Linked DNA regions of Homo sapiens. The protein of the gene in region 2 interacts with the protein of the main gene of each other region in a biochemical or structural test. Each region holds a gene or a part of one and is shown on either strand. Other genes may lie near its edges.

Region 1 (7,903 bases), on a different chromosome or scaffold from region 2:
AGCATCTCACATGTGGACAACTCTGAAGAGATATTACACCTTTGCTCAGGGTAATTTCTACAATTTTTACTCTTAGAAGTAGTGTGGAGTGATGTGTTCCTGTCAGTCCACCACGGGTGGCTCATGTTGAGCCTTGGTCTAGTTTGCTTTATTAATATTTTTTCCATCTTAATTTTAAGAAGTCACATTTTCTTTTTTTTTTTTTCCTTTCTGGCTAATAGGGTTTCTATGTGATTATTAAGCTGACTTTTAGTTTGCCTGTAAATATTTGTCTCCCATGGCTGGAGAGTCATGCATTGCTCCTTAATTTCTATACTTAGTTTGCTACATTTGGATTCCTTCCTGCAGTTCTTACCAACCTCCCAAAGCCTCATCTGACAGAATACTAGATCCCTATGACCCTGACTAAAAGAACCAAGTATATTAAGTCAAACAGCCACACTCACAGCGAAGGCGACACAGTGGAGTACGTCATTCTCCGCCTCCAGGTCAGTGAAGAGGCTCCTGTTTCCCCTGACAGACTCCAAGGAAGCACTTACAGTCACTGTCTCATTCAGGTAGCTCAGAAGGACACAGCCCTTCTCAGTGGTCTCAGTGTGGAGCAGGGAGGGGACCAGAACCATATACTGCCTGGGAATGAGACGGTTCAGTTAGAGGAAAGTGAAGGAAGAGAGGCATTGCTATCAACAGCACTTTTTTCCATCATCATAATTATCATCATCAGTTCTACACCAAGAGAAGATGTACTGATGAGCATGAAATTTGGCCGTTGAAGGCCATGCATAAGAATTATTTCCCTTTTCCCTCACATGCCATGGCAGTGAACATTTTACTTGAGGTAGGTCTTAAACAGATTAAAACTTGTAGGCATGCTTCACTTTAAGGAACAATTTGTGAACATCTGAATTCAAATAAAAATATGTAGTTACATTTGTTCATGTTGTAAAATCTATTTTTACCTTCAAGTTGCTGTAAAAAGTAAGCAAGCTCTCAGTCATGCGGACATTACAAAAACTAATCAAATTATAGAATTTTCATTAAAATATATATACACACATACATACATACACACATTCAGCAGCCCTGTGAAAATTGTATGGTAAGCACTCGCTTCCACTCCACAGATATGGAATCTGAGCCTCAAAGAAAGTGAGCCATTACTTCACAGTCTCAGTTGTGGTAAGCAGCTAATAAGGTCTTAAGAGTGTTACCTAACCATGGATGTTTGCATTTTAAATATTTGCCTTTCAGCTCATGATTAGACAATGGCTCCATCCAAAAATGGTCCTCTGGTGATTGACTTTAGACCTTGGTAACTCATGTGCAGTACAGAAACTTTCTCAGTACCCTGACATGTAATTTAAGATCAACCCTGTAGTTTTTATACATTTTTGCTCACAGAACTCCTAAAATAATTTTTGGACTCTGTGCACTCCTTACATATTTTCAAGTAAACATATTTTTATCATGATTTTAAGTAATAGCAAAAGATATTATTTTTGATGATATTTTAAATTAATACTTAGATTACTTTTACAATTTTCTCATGAATAATAAACACTGTAGTATAAGATACCTACTATCACTATTTAAAAGTACATTAAAAAATTCTTTTAATGGTCTGATATTTAATATCTTTCTCTTCTTTTTTCCTTTTTGAATTTGAATTTCCATGCCAATTACCATACAGAAATTTATCCTAAATTTTTATATTTCAAAAAATGTTGTGAATTATTCTTACTTCTTTATTGTCAAGCATCTATACATATACGTATGTATACTTATGTTCACATATATACATATATGAATACATATACATAAATACATATATATGTAACATATGTGGGTAGGTAAATTTAACTTTAACTCCTCTTTTAAATAGAATGTAACCATAAATTTATAAATATTAAACATTTCCTTCTGACTGAGCTATGTTCAAAAATACTTGTATATAACTGATCAAAACAAAATAAATACAAAGTATGATTCATACATATTAGATATAAAATTAAAATACTTTTGAAGCACATCTTTAATGAGAATGATGAGCTGTTTTTTCCCCCAGTGAATTTATGCATCCATGGATTGCAAGAATTAAACAACATTAATTCTGTTACTATTTTTGTTTTGTGTAGCTATAAGTGCTAAGAAGAATGGCTCACATAAAAGTAAATAAATGGCAGGTAAAACAATTGCATCATTGTTACCACTTCTTGCAACTTCTGCATTACATGCCAAAAATCACCTAGTACTCTATTATCAAGAATCCCTTCTCATCACTCATCAGCTGGTATTTCCTTCAGTTCCTCCTTCAGTTGTGTTGAAACAAAGAATTCATCACCACCTCATCTGCAAAAGGATTTCTCTTCTGACATTAGAGTCCCTTGCTTTTTCAATATCAACACCAGTATTTCAAATTGTTCCTTTATTTGGCACTCTATAGATTTTTATACTCCAGGGCATTGTTCCATGTTTGGTTGTGGGAGAGAATTGTCTTTATTTTTATAAAATAGAAAATGGACCCTTGAGAAAGAGGAAATAAGAAAAGATAAATAGCATGGTCTCAAGTAGATCAATATGAATGTGAATATCTAAAATTTATTCTTTTAAAAAGCTAAAAATTTCTGACACCCCTTAGGAAGGCTTTGCATATTAGAGCTTCAGAGAGTTGGGGAAGAATGATTAAAAGTAAGCAAGTAATGAGTAAACTAGATTTGTAAAATCTGGAAGGAATCTTAGAGATAAGAAGATGACAGTATCATAGGAAAGAAAAAGGAATGATATAAAGAAAAATCTGCAATAAATGAAGGACTCTAGGTTCATGCTTCACGCTCTCTGTGTGGAACTCACGGTTTTCCAGAGACTGAGGCGTCTGTGGGCAGGAGGACCAAGAGGAGAAGAACCAGACTTGGATGAAGGAGTTTGTTCTTCCCCATGTTGCAGAAAGAAGGAGCTGGAGGAGAACAGACTGTATTGTACCCTACTCCCTACAATCCATCTGGTCCCAAACACTTCCCAAAGCAACTGGGCTTTATGCTGCTCTGTGTGCAAACAGGAAGTTCCACCCACACAAGATCTCTAAACAAAGTTGAGGTCTCTGAACATTCTCTGGAAAGGTCATTGATGGCCTATTTATAGTCAAGGTTAATTCCTGGCGGGCTAAATAGAATCCCTGGAGGGCTAAAACTACATTCCCATTCCCGTAAGAGCTCACTTTTACCGTACAGCAGCTAATAAGCTTTTCAACCTCTTCTCTCCCTCACTCCCCCACAACTCCTCACAACGCCTTTTATGGTGCTTCTCACATCTCTTGTATGAATAGCTGGCAAGGAAAACTACAATTTAAGCAACACTGGGCAGGCTCAAAATAGATATTTCACTACAAGTCAGTGTGGCTGCAAGTTCTCCATTAGATATGCCTAACCTAAATGTTTGAAGCCACATCAGAATTCAGTAGTCCTCTTTGAAAATGGCACGAATTAAACCAGTAGCTTTTTGACATTAGGGATATTACTGGGTTGCAGATGAAGAGCCAGGCCCTGGAAGAATGATCATAGAAAAGAGTTTCCTGTTTTAAGAAAGTGAAACAAAGAAACGTGAAGTAACAGGACTTCAAAAACAAATTTTGACCTATTGTGCCTAACAAACTTCCCAATTGCCTTTACCATCGACTACACAGACTTCCTTACTGCCTTCCAAATATGATACTCCTCTGCAAACTTTAAGTCATATAAATGATTTCATTAATCCATCCATCCACCCATGCATTTATTCATCCATCTATTCATGTAGCTATTCAGTTGCTTTGTAAGTATTTTTTGATCCTACTAGGGCTAGACATCATGCAAGATTCTAGAGATAGGGTGGTCAAATAAGTATGAAAACAGGCACTTAAAGATTTTACATTCTTGTTGGGGCAAAAACAGACAGAAAAACAACTACTGTATAAAATACAATATAACACCTACTGTATAAAATACAGTATAAAATACAATATAAAACTACTGTATAAAATACAGTAGCCAAACATATTATTGCAGAAGTTCAGGATGCTCTGGGAGCACATAAGAGAGCACATAACCCAGACCTGGAACCTTTTAAAAAAATTTTGAGGGAAAGCAAAATGTAAATTAAGCTCTGAAGTATGAGTAGTGGTTGTCTCGAAGAACAAAGAGATGAAAAGAGCTTTCTAAGCATAACGAATGACAGATGCAAAGGAGGGAGAAGAATCACGGCACATGCATGAAATGAAAACTATTTGGTATGGAGGAAATATTCCTTTCTGATACTTCAAATCAGAAAGGAATTTGTCAACAATATTAAGGTATTCAGAGGAGTACTCAGTGGATTGACTTCAGGTTTGTTTCCTGGAAAGCTTGCTCTTATTGAAATTTGAAAGGGCAGCTAGAAAGAGGTGATCCAGGATGCAGGAAGACCAGATGGGAGCTGGTGTAATAATATAGGTGAAAGCTGATGGCATTTTGAACTATGGAATTTGTGGTGGTATTGAAAAGAGCTTGCAGATTTATATCATATTTAAGAGGTAATTATAGTGCTCAGTGAATATATCAATGTGAGGAATAAAGGAAAATGTGTCTTTCCATTTTCCTGGCTCGTCACGGAGTGAATTGTGTTGCCTTTAGCTGGGTGAGTGAAACAGAAGAAACACAGATTGGTGGGAGCAGAAGGAGGACAGAAGGGCTGAGGGTTGGGAAGATGGAGTAAGTGCTTGTGGGATATTCACGTATTAATATTCACAGGAGTTTGACATTTGAATCTTGAGCTTACAGCAGTGTGGTCTACTAGAAATAGAATGTGATCGCCCTGTGTAATTTTAAATTTTAAATTTTCTAGTAACCACATAAAGAGAAACATTAAATTAATTTTAATAGTGTATTTTATTTAATCCAATATATCCAAAATATGATCATTTCAACATTTAGCCAATATAAAATTGTTAATGATATCTTAAAGACTTTTTTTTCATAATTTGTTTTCACAAGCTGGTGTGAATTTTATACTTACAACATAGATCAATTTAGGCTAGCCATACTTCAAGTGGCCAATATTAGACATAATATAGGTAATATTTTTCAGATTATGGTGTTAGCATCTAAGTGGGTTGTAACATCATGCCCTGTGAGTCATGACCAGGATTTTAAAAAATGAAAGAGAATATAATAAAAAATACAGTGTATCAGACAGAATAAGTGAGAATAGTGATTTGGGAAACATCTGTTTCATATACATGCAGCAGAGGCTGGTGGTTGTTTCCTGTTACCACTTCTCCAATTCTGCTTTAATAATAGAACTCCCGATCCTTTGCTGGGTGCAGACTGCCTAGTTGACTTCTATGTTTTTAACCCACTCCCTTGAAGCTGGGTATGGCATATGACTAAGTTCTGGTGACTGGAGGGCAAGTGGAAGTGATACATGCAACTTTCAGTTCATGACTTAAAAAAGGAAGGGTACAGTTCTGCGCTTCCCCTTTCTTCCTTGCCCAGGCTGGAATGTGGACATGCTGACTAGTGATAGGTACTGCTGTAGCTCATCAGATGGAAGCCATGTGTTAAGGAAGGCAGAACCACAAACCAGGCACAGCCTGAGCCCTTGAGTCATCAAAAGTCTACGCCAGTTGGGACCTTTATGTGACAGAGAAATGCATTCTCTTAGTTAAGCCATTGTATTTTGAGGTCTGTTACAGCATTAAAATCTATATCCTAACCTTATTTTTCTTTGTCACTATTTCTGTCTCAATCATCTGTATCCTTTACTCTAAGTGTCCTAGGTCACAATTGTGAAAATGTGATTACAGTGTCACAGTGGGAACTGCTTATTGAACATGTACAAAATCCCTTATTTTTGGTTAAAGTTAAAGCAGTCTGAATGCCACTAGCTTGATGAGATCTGCTGTACTTATAGAGACTATGGATTTATCAGTTTATTGGGCAAGCTGATGCCATGGAAATGGATGATAATACCCACGTAGAAGATGTTGATGAAAAGAGAAAAAGAGCCCAAGACAGAGTTACAGGGAATGCTCTTGTCTAGGCAATGGGCAGGAGCACCCAAGTGGAGCAAGAAGGGCCAATTAGAGAGGAAGAAACACAGGCAGGAGAGTGTGAGGTCTCTGAGTCCCACGGAAGGGACCGCTTTAGTAAGAGAATAGTCAATAGAAGATTGCTACTAGACCAGAATGATCATGACTTTATACCAAGGCATCAATGTTAATAGCACACAACATTTTAAAAAATTATTACAAATGATGGTATAATTTTATAATGTATTGATTCATAATGTAACATAATTTAAATGGTTTCTAAGACGCTAGAAATAAGTGAGCATTTACTTGGATTAATGACTTAAAATAGGAGGGATTAATGTTAATAGCATTCATTTGATGCCTCATGATAAATTACAAAGATGATCTGTAAAGGTTGTCATTGATAAATTCCTGGCTACCCATGTCAAGTGCCGCTGTGAAATCAAATAATTGATTGATTTTTTTTTTCTGCTGGGTTTAAGGACAAGGACATTGGGATTCAGCTGTTTCAGTGCCGGTGTGGGGCAGAAGCTTGCTGAGGGTGATGGGGAATGTGAGGAACTAGAGCCAGTTTGGCAGTTTGTCTGAAGGGGAGAAAAACAACAGAGCAGTACCTGACGGAGATGCCAGGGTGAAAGGAATATTTCTTTAGGTGGAAATAAACTTGAATAAGTTTGAATGAAATATTGCTTCTAAAAATGCTGAGTGGGAGGTACAAATGACAGGGGAGAAGTTGAGCTTTTTGGAGTGAGAAGGGATGATCCCAGAGGGAGGTCTCTGAAGGATGCATGCAGCAGATGTATTAAGAATGTGGGTGGAGGAATGATCCTTAATGGGAGAGATGCCGCATTCATTATAATCACAGATAAAAAGGAAAGTATTACTAAAATCGCCTTTCACCACGACAGAGCCTCCTATTCTTTAGGAGAGGGAAAACGAGCTTGAGAGAAAAAATAACTGGACCAGTTAGTTGCCAGGACACCTGAGCCCTACTTCTAACTTAGCTGTGTGGTCCTGGGTAACTCAGTTAACTGCTCTGAGCCTCAGCTTTCATGCCAATAGTGGGGCAATAATATCTGTGGTCTCACCTTAATGGGGTAGTTTCATACAAGATGCTAGGTGTAACACAGCTTTGACATTCTGATCCTTACTATACCAGTGTAAATTAATTTTTATAGTTTGAATGCTAATGGCTGAGGATGACATCTATTTCATCTCTGTTCTGGGTTTCGCTATAGGAACAGCATCCATCAGTGTTTCCAGGAAAAATCACCAATTGGGTTACCTGAGTAGCAAGTTCTTGACAGAAAAGGGAGCACACAATTTGAACCAGTTCTATACAGTTTTGAAGTATTTAGCAAATACTGCTAGAAAGCTGAGGTAAAGGGGTAGAGCGAAAAAAAGGAAGGGAAAAAGATAGTCCATGGAAAAGAAAGTAGAAGAGCAAAATACAGGAAAACACATAACAGTAAGAACAAACAAGGAATATTTGGGAAATGAGAGAAATTAGGATTAGGAGGTAGGTGGGCCTTAACAAAAATAAATAGAATCAAATTTTCTCCTTGTATTGCTATAGTGCTTCCCAGGAACTGAATATAACTTATTTAATTGTACCAATTGTACAGTTAGCGCACATTGTCCTTGAAAAGAGAACACTTAAGCTTCCCATAGTCCTGACAGTGACGATAATGACAATTTCATCTGGTTACATATTAACTAGTATCAAAAACAAGCTCAGTAGGTGGCATAACCATATTCACCCTATTAGAGGGTGTACTGGCTTTGTCTTTGACGAAGTATCTTGGGCAAAATCTGCAGTGAAGGAAATATATATCTACAGAGATGTACTCAGTGATCAAA
Region 2 (7,267 bases):
CCAACAGCAAACCCTTGCCCATCCTCTGCGATCTGGCTCCGAGGACTCCTCCACAGTAGTCTCATTGCCTCAGGCCATGGAGGTGGCAGCAATGAGGTTGAGAAGACCTTGCTGAGCCATGCAGGGCAGGGCCGGGCCACGCCCCGTTTCTGGGCCAGGCCCAGCCTGACATCAGGTCCCCAGCTGCCGAGGAGGCTGCTCTTCGCCAACCGCCCTCTGTGCCGCAGGTTCTTTCTGATGTGCTACCTGTTCGTGAACCTCGCCTGTGCGGTGCAGACACTCCTGAGGACCCCCAACTGGCGGCCCCGGTTCAAGTACTATCACTGGTGAGCCATGCCTCTGACACGGGAGACCCTGGGGAGGCCAGGAGCCTCATTCTGGGTGAGGCTTGGGTTTCCTGGGTAGGGAGCTCTTGAAACACTGTGGGGAGGGAGATTATAGGGCTGCGGGGGACTGGACCTAGGTCTTACACCCAGTGACCTGACCACCCACCTGGGACCTCCCACCCGGGACCTGACAGGGCTACCAGGGCATGGGCCAGGCTGTGGCCAGGGGTCCTCCTGGTCCTGCCCTGACTCTGCCCTCCCCTCTCGTCCAGGGCGCTGTCCTTCCTGGGCATGAGTCTCTGCCTGGCCCTTATGTTTGTCTCCTCCTGGTACTATGCCCTGGTGGCCATGCTCATCGCCGGCATGATCTACAAATACATCGAGTACCAAGGGTGAGTGAGCACTGCCACCTGGCCTCTGCCAGCTGAGGGGGCCCGGCCGAGCAGGCAGGGTGGTCTGGCATTGGGGTGGGCAGGGAGCTGGGCCACCGTGGGTGCCAGGACTGGGGACTGTAACTCAGGACCCCTGGGTGGTCTTGAGGGGCAGAACCCCTCCACCTCGCATCCACATAGACAGAACCCCCTGGGCGGCACCAGGGGCTCACCAGCTGTGGTGGAATCTGCAGGGCTGAGAAGGAGTGGGGTGACGGGATCCGAGGCCTGTCCCTGAGCGCTGCCCGCTACGCGCTGTTGCGGCTGGAGGAGGGGCCTCCTCACACCAAGAACTGGCGGTGAGTTCCCGCCAGACCCTGGCCAGGGCGCAGAGGTTCTTAGGGGTCGCTGTCGGGGTCAGAGGGTCGAGAGGTGCCGGCTCCCCATCCTGGGGCTGCCCGGGGCACCCTCCTGGGCCATGCTACCCAAACCTGCAGGGACCACGACCCGAGAAGGGAAGAAGAGGAGGGGCTCCCTAGAACGGCCGGCCCTGGTCTCAGGCTCCCCCCACCCGGCCACTGCAGGCCGCAGCTGCTGGTGCTGCTGAAGCTGGACGAGGACCTCCACGTGAAGTACCCGCGGCTCCTCACCTTCGCCTCCCAGCTCAAGGCTGGCAAGGGCCTGACCATTGTTGGTTCTGTCATCCAGGGGAGCTTCTTGGAGAGCTATGGCGAGGCTCAGGCCGCCGAGCAGGTACTTGCTTTGGGGAGGGAGAGCTGAGCCAGACTACAGGGGTCTGGACTGCAGCTGGCACGGAGGGGAGGGCCCAGTCTTGGCCAGGGTGGCCAGCCAGGCAGCCAGCACTGCTGCCACCTGAGAGCTGGCACAAGGGGGAGCCAGCAGTCCCATCTTGAAAACTTGGCCTCTGGGTAGGCAGCTTGTTGCCCCCAGGCCCTCCTCCACCCAAAAGTCGTTTTGTTCCCGAGGGGCCTTGGGAGGGAGCCCAGAGGCAGGAAGCTGATGGCCTCCCATTGGCCCTGGGTGTGTTCCCCACAGACCATCAAGAACATGATGGAAATTGAGAAGGTGAAGGGCTTCTGCCAGGTGGTGGTGGCCAGCAAGGTGCGGGAGGGGCTGGCCCACCTCATCCAGTCCTGTGGCCTGGGAGGCATGCGGCATAACTCCGTGGTGCTGGGCTGGCCCTACGGCTGGCGACAGAGCGAGGACCCCCGTGCCTGGAAGACCTTCATTGGTGTGTGAAGGCCTGGGGCCTGGTGGGCAGGGGTGAAGTGAGGTGGCAGTGGGCGGAGGGCCACAGACTGGTGGTCAGCCGTGCTCCTCCTCCCCAGACACCGTGCGCTGCACTACGGCTGCCCACCTGGCCCTGCTCGTGCCCAAGAACATCGCCTTCTACCCCAGCAACCACGAGCGCTACCTGGAGGGCCACATAGACGTGTGGTGGATCGTGCACGATGGTGGCATGCTCATGCTTCTGCCCTTCCTGCTGCGCCAGCATAAGGTAGACCAGGGGGTGGGTGCAGATGAGAGGGGCTAGGCCCTTGGAGGAGCAGCTGTGACCAAACCGCCCACCTGGTCCCTTGCCTCAGGTCTGGAGGAAGTGCCGGATGCGCATCTTCACAGTGGCCCAGATGGATGACAACAGCATCCAGATGAAGAAGGACCTGGCTGTCTTTCTGTACCATCTGCGCCTTGAGGCCGAGGTGGAGGTGGTGGAGATGGTGAGCCCTCTGCCCTGCCCTGGCCCCGTGGATACCATGTCCCGTGCAGCTGGGTCCTCACGGCCAACCCTGTCCCCAGCATAACAGTGACATCTCTGCATACACCTACGAGCGGACGCTGATGATGGAGCAGCGGTCGCAGATGCTGCGGCAGATGAGACTGACCAAGACTGAGCGGGAGCGAGAAGTCAGTGCCCTTTGTGGTTCACGCCAGGGCGGGTGGCAGGGTCAGGCCTTTGGAGACCGCATCGGTGGGTGCGGAGGAATCAGAATGACTCACCGCAGCCCTACCCAAGCTAGTGCTCATTTCCCGGAGGCAAGGTGGTCACATTGGGCCAGACAGGCCCCATCCCCCTTTTCCTATGGGACCAAGGCTATCTCCTGCAATTGTCCTCAGGCCCAGCTGGTCAAGGATCGGCACTCGGCCCTGCGGCTGGAGAGCCTGTACTCGGACGAGGAAGATGAGTCTGCAGTGGGGGCTGACAAGATCCAGATGACGTGGACCAGGGACAAGTACATGACTGAGACCTGGGACCCCAGCCATGCCCCTGACAATTTCCGGGAGCTGGTGCACATTAAGCCGTGAGTGCAGCAAAAACAGCCCCAGCGGCACTGGAATCTAGGGGTGGAGGTGGGGTGGGGCAGACAAGTAGTGTTAGATGGGCCAGGGGTGGGGACCCTCCTTGCAGGATGGCTCATGGCGACCTGTGACTGGCTACACTACGTGTAGGGACCAATCCAATGTGCGGCGCATGCACACTGCTGTGAAGCTCAATGAAGTCATTGTCACGCGCTCCCACGACGCCCGCCTGGTTCTCCTAAACATGCCTGGCCCACCCAGGAACAGTGAGGGCGACGAGAACTGTATCCCTTTGTGGAGAGGCAGGCAGTTGGGAGGTGGATAGCATGGGAGGTCAAGCCAGCGGCTTCTCTCCTGGGCACCCCTGGGTGGGCATGGCCCAGGTGGCCCGGGTTGCCCGTTGATTCTGTTGTTGCCTCCTTGACTTGAGGCCCTGCAGACATGGAGTTCCTCGAGGTGCTGACCGAGGGCCTTGAGCGGGTGCTGTTGGTGCGCGGTGGTGGCCGTGAAGTCATCACCATCTACTCCTGAGCCCAGTGTCATCTTGTGGCCTGGAGTCGAGGTCTTGGCCAGGACATAACAAGCTGTGGTCTGGGGTAACAGCCTCTTCCCAGCACCCACCTGCCAGCCCTGCTTGCCTGGCCCTGTCCTGGACCCAGCTTTGCTAGGTCTCCTTGGAAACCAGGCCTGGGCCTCAAAATGGAGATGGATCCCAGGTCTTGTGGGACCCTGGGATGTTTGGGGACTTTACTATCTAGCACCCCAGTAGGCCTGTCCTGGCCAGAGAAGACTGGTAGGGGCCGAGTGGGGTTTGAAGGCAGCCGGCCCGGCCCAGCCCAGGAGCGCTATTTATTGCATATTTATTGTTTGGATGTCACCATCAGAGACGAAGGGAAGGGTAGCCAGGGAGGGAGTCCAGCCCAGCTGCCTGCAGGAAGATCTGGCTCAGTCTACTATGGGCAGGGCCCCCCACCAAGCTGAGCCGAATGGAGACAGCTGAGCTGAGGCCTGACTTTTTCAATAAAACATTGTGTAGTTCTGGGCCTCCTGCTGCCCCGGCTCTGTTTCCCCTGGCGCCAAGAGAAGAAGGCGGAACTGAACCCAGGCCCAGAGCCGGCTCCCTGAGGCTGTGCCCCTTTCCGGCAATCTCTGGCCACAACCCCCACTGGCCAGGCCGTCCCTCCCACTGGCCCTAGGGCCCCTCCCACTCCCACACCAGATAAGGACAGCCCAGTGCCGCTTTCTCTGGCAGTAGGCACCAGGGCTGGAATGGGGCCGCCCGGCTCCCCATGGCAGTGGGTGACGCTGCTGCTGGGGCTGCTGCTCCCTCCTGCCGCCCCCTTCTGGCTCCTCAATGTGCTCTTCCCCCCGCACACCACGCCCAAGGCTGAGCTCAGTAACCACACACGGCCCGTCATCCTCGGTAAGCCCCCACCAGGCCCCTGATGCACCACGCCAGACCCTGGGGAGCCTGGGCCCCAGCCCCTGGCAGCTGACCTGGCCAAAGCCCTTCTGCCCTGCATAAGCCCCGACATAAGTACCTGCCCTGGTGTGGGGAGGGGCCAAAAGCTTGTCCCTTAGAGGAATGACGTCCCTTCTCCCACCACACTGTGACTCTCAGTTGTCTAACCCAGGGGGGGCGGAGTGGGGGACGGGGTGTGCCTGAGGTCTTGGCTGGGGCATCACAAGCTGTGGTCAGTCACAGCCACACCAGACTCTGGGCCAAGCCCCACCACTCCTTCCTTGGCCCCCACCCACCAAGGACAAGATGCCCAGCCCAGGATCGGTGAGCAGGAGAGGCCCATCCATGCCCGGCCCCTATTAGGCCCAGCCCCCATGCCCCCAGACCTATCTGTTCCCACCTTGGACTTTGGCAATAAAGGAGCGCCAGACTGGGTGTTTGCTCTGCAGAGGCAGGGGTCAGCGGCCTTGGCCTCAGCACCTCAGCGCCTTCCCTTCCTCAGGGAAGCCTGGGCTTTGGCTACTGGGGGGACAGCAGGGAGAGGGGGTGTAAGCAGGGGAGGGTAAGTGTGCTTTGTACCTGGGGGTTGAGGGTATGGGAGGTGGGGGGTGGGTCTGGTCACTGCAGCATCTGGGGTGACGGGGGTAAGGGTCACGGGGGGAATCCAGAGTCCAGAGTGAGGGCTGCTGCTCACAGTGCCCGGCTGCCTGGGGAATCAGCTAGAAGCCAAGCTGGACAAACCAGATGTGGTGAACTGGATGTGCTACCGCAAGACAGAGGACTTCTTCACCATCTGGCTGGATCTCAACATGTTCCTACCCCTTGGGGTAGACTGCTGGATCGATAACACCAGGTACAGCCATGTGCTCCACCCTAGCCCCAACACGCTGCCCCTTGGCTACTGGCTGCTGAGTGGCACCCCCGCCCCGCAGGGTTGTCTACAACCGGAGCTCTGGGCTCGTGTCCAACGCCCCTGGTGTCCAGATCCGCGTCCCTGGCTTTGGCAAGACCTACTCTGTGGAGTACCTGGACAGCAGCAAGCTGGCAGGTTTGTGTCAGAGGGCAGGGCTGGGGCTCCAGGCCTGGGTGCTGGCCCACAGCAGGCATGGCCCAAGCCCCCGGTGCTGCTGGTCCCCCCACAGGGTACCTGCACACACTGGTGCAGAACCTGGTCAACAATGGCTACGTGCGGGACGAGACTGTGCGCGCCGCCCCCTATGACTGGCGGCTGGAGCCCGGTGAGTGTCTCTGCGGATGACCGGCTTGGGGTGGGGCAGGTGCCCCAGACCCCAGCTGCCCTGACCCCTTCCACCCGCTGCAGGCCAGCAGGAGGAGTACTACCGCAAGCTCGCAGGGCTGGTGGAGGAGATGCACGCTGCCTATGGGAAGCCTGTCTTCCTCATTGGCCACAGCCTCGGCTGTCTACACTTGCTCTATTTCCTGCTGCGCCAGCCCCAGGCCTGGAAGGACCGCTTTATTGATGGCTTCATCTCTCTTGGGGCTCCCTGGGGTGGCTCCATCAAGCCCATGCTGGTCTTGGCCTCAGGTGAGAAGGCCTCGAACACTTAGGTCCAGCGATGGGTGAGACCAAGCTGATCCTGGGCCTGCCTTCATTGCGGCTCCTGCTCACAGTGGCCTCTAGGGGTGCTATCTACCACTCCTGGGCTGGCATGCTTGCTGTCACTGGCCCCCAGAGCAGTGACCCTGGCCTGAGCAATTAGGGTGGCTCCTTCCAGAGTCTGTGTCAGTGATGGCAAAGGGGCAGTGAACACAGAAAGTGAATCCCAGCTATCTGCTCCCAGGGTTTGTTCTTGTAGCCCCAGAGCCTGCCTGCCCAGCCCTTGCCTGCCTTCCACTTGCTCGCAGGAGTGCCTTTGCCCAGGGATGTGCTTCACTGAGGATGGATCTGCCAGAGCTAGGGCCAGACCCCCCGAGGCCCCACCTGCTCTTCCCTAGGGAGTGGCACCAGGGCCCAGCACTGACACAGCTACCACCTACTCCCCACCCCCTGTACCCTGGGAGCTGGTCTGGAGAGAGAAACACAGTCTGGACAAGAGAAACGCTCATCAGACACCACCAATAAACATCAAACAGACACCATCTTGTTTCCCCCTTTCTGGAGCACAACTCTGTGGCCCCCATTGCTGCATAAGCCACACAAGGAGCAGAAAGACACATGCCCGAGGGAGGACAGCCAGCACCGCCCCCACCATCCCCACACATCCTGGGCCTCACCCACCATCCCCACACACCCTGGTCCTCAGGAAGCCCCGCCTACTTTTTTTTTTCTTTTTCAGACAGGGTCATTCTGTCGCCCAGGCTGGAGTGCAGTGGCGTGATCATAGCCGCAGTCTCAATCTCCCTGGCCCAAGCAATCCTCCTGCCTCAGCCTCCTGGTTAGCTGAGACTATAGGCACACAACACCACACCTAATTTATTTTTGTTTTTTAGTAGAGATGAGGTCTTGCTATGTTGCCCAGGCTGGTCTCAAACTCTTCACCTTAAGTGATCTTCCTGCCTCAGCCTCCCGAAGTGCTGGGATTACAGGCGTGAGCTACTGTGCTGGGCCTTTTAAAAAATGTTTATTTGTTTATTTATGTATTTTGAGATGGAGTCTCGCTCTGTTTCCCAGGCTGGAGTGCAGTAGTGCAATCTCCACTCACTGCAACCTCCATCTCCCCAGTTCAAGTGATTCTTCTGCCTCAGCCTCCCTAGTAGCTAGGATCACAGGCATGTGCCACCACGCCTGGCTAATTTTTATATTTTTAGTAGAGATTAGGTTTCCCCAT
Region 3 (7,226 bases), on a different chromosome or scaffold from region 2:
GAAAGACCATCTGAGTTCACAGAAGGAAGAATGAGAGGAGGGAATTTAGAAAGCCTTCCAAGCTGGGCATGGTGGCGTGCGCCTGTAATCCCAGCTGCTCAGGAGGCTGAGGCAGGAGAATTAGGTAAACCCAGGAGTTGGAGTCCAACCTGGGCAACATAGCAAGACCCCCACCTCTACAAAAAATAACCAGGCTTGGTGGCACATGCCTGTAGTCCCAGCTGCTCAGGAGGCTGAGGCTGAAGGATCATGTGAGCCTAGGAGTTTGAGGCTGCAGTGAGCTGTGATCGCACCACTGCACTCCTGCAAAGAGAAAAGAAAGATTTCAAGTCCATGAGGGCGGCTAGAAAGTTGCTGTAGGGCCATTTAGATTAGAGAAGAAAAGAGCCTTCTCAAGAAGGGCCTTCTGGCCGGGCGCGGTGGCTCACGCCTGTAATCCCAGCACTTTGGGAGGCCGAGGCGGGTGGATCACGAGGTCAGGAGATCGAGACCATCCCGGCTAAAACGGTGAAACCCCGTCTCTACTAAAAATACAAAAAATTAGCCGGGCGTAGTGGCGGGCGCCTGTAGTCCCAGCTACTTGGGAGGCTGAGGCAGGAGAATGGCGTGAACCCGGGAGGCGGAGCTTGCAGTGAGCCGAGATCCCGCCACTGCACTCCAGCCTGGGCGACAGAGCGAGACTCCGTCTCAAAAAAAAAAAAAAAAAAAAGAAGGGCCTTCTAAAACTCCTCTGAGTCTGTATACGCTGTCATGCAAGACTAGGTGAGTCTCTAGAATCAAACAGTGATAATACCCAGATGCCTTCCAGCAAATTGTAGCACCTGTTGCAATAGGTGCCACTCCCTCCTAAAATCAGCCAGGGTGCCTTTGGACCAGAGGTAGGGTGAGCTTTTGTAGGAAGCAGGGCACTGGCTCCTGGATACAGACTGGAGAGCTTAGCTCCAGAAAACAGGAGCCATGTTGACAGAAAACCGTGCTCTACACAGTTTTCTTTCTGACTTTGTGCCAGCCCCCACCCCACCCCAACTGCAAAGATCAAGAACTCAGAGGGCTACTGTGCTTCCCTCCTGCTGATCAAAGATGAGCTCTGTCCTGGCCTTAGTCTTTTCCAAGCAGGAGGGCAGGAGAGAATCTTGCATAGCTGGCTACGGTGCCCCACCCAAGGGTCTAACTTGGGGCTCTATCACAAAAGCTGCAGCAAAATTGCCAAAAGTAGGAACTACTGGGGGTGGGGGTCCTGTCTCCCCTGCTCAGTCACCACCTCCCCTCCCTAACTCTCATTCTGGCTCATACCACGTGCTCCCAGAAGAAACGTTCTGAGCAGGGGCTGGTATGAGACTGCCTCCCCTCCCAGGACCCACTCCTCCCTATGACCAGGCTGGTGACCCTCCCTCTAGGGTGCCAGTGCCATTCACTGAGCAGATGTTTGGCAGGTGTCTGTTATGTGCCAGACCTAGCAGGGGACAGAGTCCTCCCGATACAGATGGACCAGTATGTTTGGACATAAATTGTGAAAGGAGTTGCTAATCTTTCTGTGCAAAATCCACTCTTGCGGTCACCGCCAACACTCCTACACATGTCAGGGCATCCAGGGCCAGGACTTGGTAACCCTGTTCAGGAGCAGTCGCTCTGGAGACTCCCAAGACGAGGGAAAGAAATGGGTGGAAACAGGGGCCTACACTGTGGGCCCCGCAGCCACCAAACAGTCCAACCCGTGGCCACTGAGTGCCTTGAACAATGCCTGGCTGGACCCTGAGTCTGAGTGTGTCATCAACCCAGTTTGTTATTGTCGTTGTTGTTGTTATGTATTTTTCCATCAGCTCTGTCCAGAAAGACCTCCTTCCTTTCCAAAATATTAGTAAAGGGGGCTTAGACTAGTTTAAGCCAAATACCTTGCAATAAAATGGAGTAGCCACCCTGGTGAATAAGTATATTTAGAAAAGGAAACTGCCTGCTTGGTAAGATGCTGTTCAACAGCACCCCCTATCCTGATGCCTCGCAGTCCCTGAGCCAGGAAACTGAGAAGTCCCTGATCAGACTGCAAAGGCTGCAGGCTCCGCAAGGGTGCAAGGCCACCCTCAAAGAACTAGAAGCCAGGCCTCCCGATTCCCACCCCTGCCAGCGCTAAATAGTAACCGCTGAAGGATGCAGGGCAGCTGTGAGCTGCAGTTTTCCCACAGGCAAAAATCACAAGGGTAAAATCTGGCCTCCAGCCTTATAGGGATATTCTAAGTTGTGAAAGTGCTTTGGCCACAAAGAACTGCGCAAATGTTAAATACTAGGTTTAGCCATAACAATCATTTTAGTAACAAACCAAAGAGAAGGGTGAAACACTGGCAAGTATCTTGGAGTCCAACCAGTAAGCTTCTGAGATTCCCCCATGTGCTGACTGGGACAAACTCTACCCCCCAAAAGAAAAGACGCTCTCTTGGCCCGAGACACCTGTGAGCTGTCCCAGCAGGGGACCAGCCACCTTCCCACTTTCTAAAGCTACAGACAGCTGGGATGGTCAAGTAGGCAGCCCAGGCTGATGGCTCACCAAGGCCACCTCCCTGTCTACACAGTCCCATAGACATCTGGGGCCACTTCAGTCCTAGAAAAGATGTTCCATATCTCAGCAACTGCAAGTCAAGGACAAGCAGAGAGATGTGGGACTGCTGCCTTCATGCCTGCTGCAGAAGCTGAGGTCTCAGATCTGATAAAGCAAGTGTAGTGGGAATAAGGGAATACATTACCAGAAACTGGGATTCTAGAAAACAGAATAGTTACTGTTTACTAAGTGCTAGGTACCTTTCTAACAGTTTTGCATATATGTTCAAAGTTCATGCTTAAAACGATACAAATTTATTATCTTACAGTTATGGAGGACAGAAGTCCAAAATGGGTCATACTGGGCTAAAATCATGGTGGCAGCAGAGCTGTGCTCCTGGAGGCTGCAGGGAAAAATCCTTTGCCTTCTCCAGCTTCTAGGGAAGGGTTGCTCATGTCCCTCAGCTCATGGCCCCCTTCCAGCAGTCACGAGTCTGATCTCCACTGCCATCCTCACATCTCTTTCTCTGACTCTGAGGCCACTGCCTCCCTCTTGTATAATTAAGGACCCCTGTGATGACAATGGGCCCACCTGGAGAATCCAGGCCAACCACCCCATCTCCAGGTCCTTAATCACACTAGCAAAATCTTTTTTTGCCATGGAAGGTAGCAAAGCCACAGGTTCCAGGGATGAGGCTGTGGACATCTTTGGGGAGCGTTATTCTGCTTGCCACACAGTAACCCCTGCCATAACTCAGGGCGATGGCATATTCTATCATTATCTTCAATCAGAAACTGATGTGTGGGGAGGTGATGTATCATAACTCATCCAGGGTCAGGCAGCTGGATTTGAACCTGCCTGACCCTTAGATTTGAGGTTTTCTGGCTCCAGAATCTTCTCTGAAGTGAAAGGCATGAGGCCGACCACTCCCTGATCTGGTAAACAGAGATGTCAGCCTGGTTTCTAGTGTTAGGGAGTTTCCTGGAGTGATGGTACAGGGTACATTTCTGCCCTGCATCCCAAGTCCAGAGACTGGGTTCTAGGTCCAGCCTTTCTTCTAACTCCCTGAGAGATGACAGCCTCTGGGCAAAGTCCCTCTGTGCTCTTCAGTCTCTTCATCTGTGAGATGGTGGCATGGGGAGAGGCTGGAGTGATGTCACAGTTCCTCTCAGCCTGCATCACAGGCTCTAGGACTCAGGTCCTATCAGTAACCTGCTGGGGGAGGTCTGGGCCTTCCAGGAGAAACCTGACAAGATGGTGCTGCAAACACCAACGGACACACAGCACTTTACATTCACAGGCTGTCTCAGGGGCCTCCAACAACCCTGACCATTCTTGCCCCATTTTGCAGATAGAAAACCGAGGCTCAGAGAGATTATATAACTTGCCCACGATCTTCCTCCAGCAAGATGGAGGCCAAGTGAAATGAGAAAGCAGGTCTCCTGCCACTTCCTTTGCCCAGAGGTCTTCTCCCCACACCAGGGCTTCCCAAGGGCTGAGATCCAGTCACACCTGTGCGTGATCAAATATAAGTGTGAACAATGCAAAGGGAGACGTCTTCAATCTAAGGGGCTTCAATTCTGTAATGTAATTCTGAGATTATGCCCTTTTTTGTTAAAGCCTTTCCTTTTTGAAGTGATGGTCACTGTAGATGGTGAGGGTTTTTTGGAGGCGGACAATATCTTTACATGACAAAATTAAAAGTTGGCAGCTCCGAATTGATCTCTGGAGTGTTTTGAAATGCAAGAGGTCTCCGAAACCTCAGTCTGGGAGCCACGGAGGGCTCTCCCCTCTCCCCAGGTTTACCAGTTTGGGAGGCTTGGAGAGAGGCCTGGAGGACCTGCTGGGGACTAAAGAAGAGCACTGGTGGGAGGACAGGGCGGGGGAAGGGGGAGGGGAGTGAAGTAGTCTCCCTGGAATGCTGGTGGTGGGGGAGGCAGTCTCCTTGGTGGAGGAGTCCCAGCGTCCCTCCCCTCCCCTCCTCTGCCAACACAATGGACAATGGCAACTGCCCACACACTCCCATGGAGGGGAAGGGGATGAGTGCAGGGAACCCCGACCCCACCCGGGAGACCTGCAAGCCTGCAGACACTCCCCTCCCGCCCCCACTGAACCCTTGACCCCTGCCCTGCAGCCCCCGCAGCTTGCTGTTTGCCCACTCTATTTGCCCAGCCCCAGGGACAGAGCTGATCCTTGAACTCTTAAGTTCCACATTGCCAGGACCAGTGAGCAGCAACAGGGCCGGGGCTGGGCTTATCAGCCTCCCAGCCCAGACCCTGGCTGCAGACATAAATAGGCCCTGCAAGAGCTGGCTGCTTAGAGACTGCGAGAAGGAGGTGCGTCCTGCTGCCTGCCCCGGTCACTCTGGCTCCCCAGCTCAAGGTTCAGGCCTTGCCCCAGGCCGGGCCTCTGGGTACCTGAGGTCTTCTCCCGCTCTGTGCCCTTCTCCTCACCTGGCTGCAATGAGTGGGGGAGCACGGGGCTTCTGCATGCTGAAGGCACCCCACTCAGCCAGGCCCTTCTTCTCCTCCAGGTCCCCCACGGCCCTTCAGGATGAAAGCTGCGGTGCTGACCTTGGCCGTGCTCTTCCTGACGGGTAGGTGTCCCCTAACCTAGGGAGCCAACCATCGGGGGGCTTTCTCCCTAAATCCCCGTGGCCCACCCTCCTGGGCAGAGGCAGCAGGTTTCTCACTGGCCCCCTCTCCCCCACCTCCAAGCTTGGCCTTTCGGCTCAGATCTCAGCCCACAGCTGGCCTGATCTGGGTCTCCCCTCCCACCCTCAGGGAGCCAGGCTCGGCATTTCTGGCAGCAAGATGAACCCCCCCAGAGCCCCTGGGATCGAGTGAAGGACCTGGCCACTGTGTACGTGGATGTGCTCAAAGACAGCGGCAGAGACTATGTGTCCCAGTTTGAAGGCTCCGCCTTGGGAAAACAGCTAAAGTAAGGACCCAGCCTGGGGTTGAGGGCAGGGGTAGGGGGCAGAGGCCTGTGGGATGATGTTGAAGCCAGACTGGCCGAGTCCTCACCTAATATCTGATGAGCTGGGCCCCACAGATGGTCTGGATGGAGAAACTGGAATGGGATCTCCAGGCAGGGTCACAGCCCATGTCCCCTGCAAAGGACAGACCAGGGCTGCCCGATGCGTGATCACAGAGCCACATTGTGCCTGCAAGTGTAGCAAGCCCCTTTCCCTTCTTCACCACCTCCTCTGCTCCTGCCCAGCAAGACTGTGGGCTGTCTTCGGAGAGGAGAATGCGCTGGAGGCATAGAAGCGAGGTCCTTCAAGGGCCCACTTTGGAGACCAACGTAACTGGGCACTAGTCCCAGCTCTGTCTCCTTTTTAGCTCCTCTCTGTGCCTCGGTCCAGCTGCACAACGGGGCATGGCCTGGCGGGGCAGGGGTGTTGGTTGAGAGTGTACTGGAAATGCTAGGCCACTGCACCTCCGCGGACAGGTGTCACCCAGGGCTCACCCCTGATAGGCTGGGGCGCTGGGAGGCCAGCCCTCAACCCTTCTGTCTCACCCTCCAGCCTAAAGCTCCTTGACAACTGGGACAGCGTGACCTCCACCTTCAGCAAGCTGCGCGAACAGCTCGGCCCTGTGACCCAGGAGTTCTGGGATAACCTGGAAAAGGAGACAGAGGGCCTGAGGCAGGAGATGAGCAAGGATCTGGAGGAGGTGAAGGCCAAGGTGCAGCCCTACCTGGACGACTTCCAGAAGAAGTGGCAGGAGGAGATGGAGCTCTACCGCCAGAAGGTGGAGCCGCTGCGCGCAGAGCTCCAAGAGGGCGCGCGCCAGAAGCTGCACGAGCTGCAAGAGAAGCTGAGCCCACTGGGCGAGGAGATGCGCGACCGCGCGCGCGCCCATGTGGACGCGCTGCGCACGCATCTGGCCCCCTACAGCGACGAGCTGCGCCAGCGCTTGGCCGCGCGCCTTGAGGCTCTCAAGGAGAACGGCGGCGCCAGACTGGCCGAGTACCACGCCAAGGCCACCGAGCATCTGAGCACGCTCAGCGAGAAGGCCAAGCCCGCGCTCGAGGACCTCCGCCAAGGCCTGCTGCCCGTGCTGGAGAGCTTCAAGGTCAGCTTCCTGAGCGCTCTCGAGGAGTACACTAAGAAGCTCAACACCCAGTGAGGCGCCCGCCGCCGCCCCCCTTCCCGGTGCTCAGAATAAACGTTTCCAAAGTGGGAAGCAGCTTCTTTCTTTTGGGAGAATAGAGGGGGGTGCGGGGACATCCGGGGGAGCCCGGGTGGGGCCTTTGGCCCTGGAGCAGGGACTTCCTGCCGGATCTCAACAACTCCGTGCCCAGACTGGACGTCTTAGGGCCAAGATCGACGTTGGAGGACCTGCTGGACGCCTGGCTGCTTACGAGTGAGGGAGTAGAGTCTGCCTTAGCAAGGCTCAAGTAGAAAGGAAGTCACAGCGGACCAGGCAAAGCCACAGACAATCCAAGGCCAGGTGCCCTGAAAGGGGCTCAAACAAGGCCTGCAGCCCTGTCTGAGGCGGGCCAGGAAACAGGGTTGCTTTAGCTGGGAGCAGTGGGTTCCCCGTCCCCAGAGGTGTGTCCGTATAGAGCCTTCTCCAGCCCAGCCGCTGTCAGCGGGGCGGGACGGAGCGGGGCGGCCTCAGGGAGCCAGCCACTGGGATTGGGGTTTGGTCCCGGGTGCAAGTGAAGCGCTTGGAGTTTGCGCCTGTCC

What was found. The genes of interacting proteins can lie anywhere in the genome.
Region 1: the proteins of LCAT (region 2) and A2M form a complex in vitro, tested with the Homo sapiens proteins (one study listed by BioGRID).
Region 3: the proteins of LCAT (region 2) and APOA1 form a complex in vitro, tested with the Homo sapiens proteins (6 studies listed by BioGRID and IntAct, with this or other methods).

Annotation. Positions count from the first base shown.
Region 1 is NC_000012.12:9,112,914-9,120,816, forward strand, and holds the start of A2M (alpha-2-macroglobulin isoform a precursor), read right to left. Parts: upstream 3,007-7,903; 5' UTR 2,937-3,006; coding exon 2,851-2,936; intron 631-2,850; coding exon 447-630; intron 1-446. UniProt on the Homo sapiens protein: Is able to inhibit all four classes of proteinases by a unique 'trapping' mechanism. This protein has a peptide stretch, called the 'bait region' which contains specific cleavage sites for different proteinases.
Region 2 is NC_000016.10:67,941,120-67,948,386, reverse strand, and holds the start of LCAT (phosphatidylcholine-sterol acyltransferase precursor), read left to right. Parts: upstream 1-4,266; 5' UTR 4,267-4,285; coding exon 4,286-4,439; exon of another isoform or gene 4,440-4,913; intron 4,914-5,174; coding exon 5,175-5,331; intron 5,332-5,410; coding exon 5,411-5,526; intron 5,527-5,620; coding exon 5,621-5,716; intron 5,717-5,799; coding exon 5,800-6,024; intron 6,025-7,267. Other genes in the region: SLC12A4 (solute carrier family 12 member 4), read left to right, coding at 228-326, 599-718, 952-1,056, 1,282-1,450, 1,754-1,949, 2,047-2,216, 2,305-2,436, 2,516-2,623 and 3 more. UniProt on the Homo sapiens protein: Central enzyme in the extracellular metabolism of plasma lipoproteins.
Region 3 is NC_000011.10:116,835,245-116,842,470, reverse strand, and holds APOA1 (apolipoprotein A-I isoform 1 preproprotein), read left to right. Parts: upstream 1-4,848; 5' UTR 4,849-4,866; exon of another isoform or gene 4,867-4,952; intron 4,953-5,063; 5' UTR 5,064-5,083; coding exon 5,084-5,126; intron 5,127-5,313; coding exon 5,314-5,470; intron 5,471-6,059; coding exon 6,060-6,663; 3' UTR 6,664-6,720; downstream 6,721-7,226. UniProt on the Homo sapiens protein: Participates in the reverse transport of cholesterol from tissues to the liver for excretion by promoting cholesterol efflux from tissues and by acting as a cofactor for the lecithin cholesterol acyltransferase (LCAT).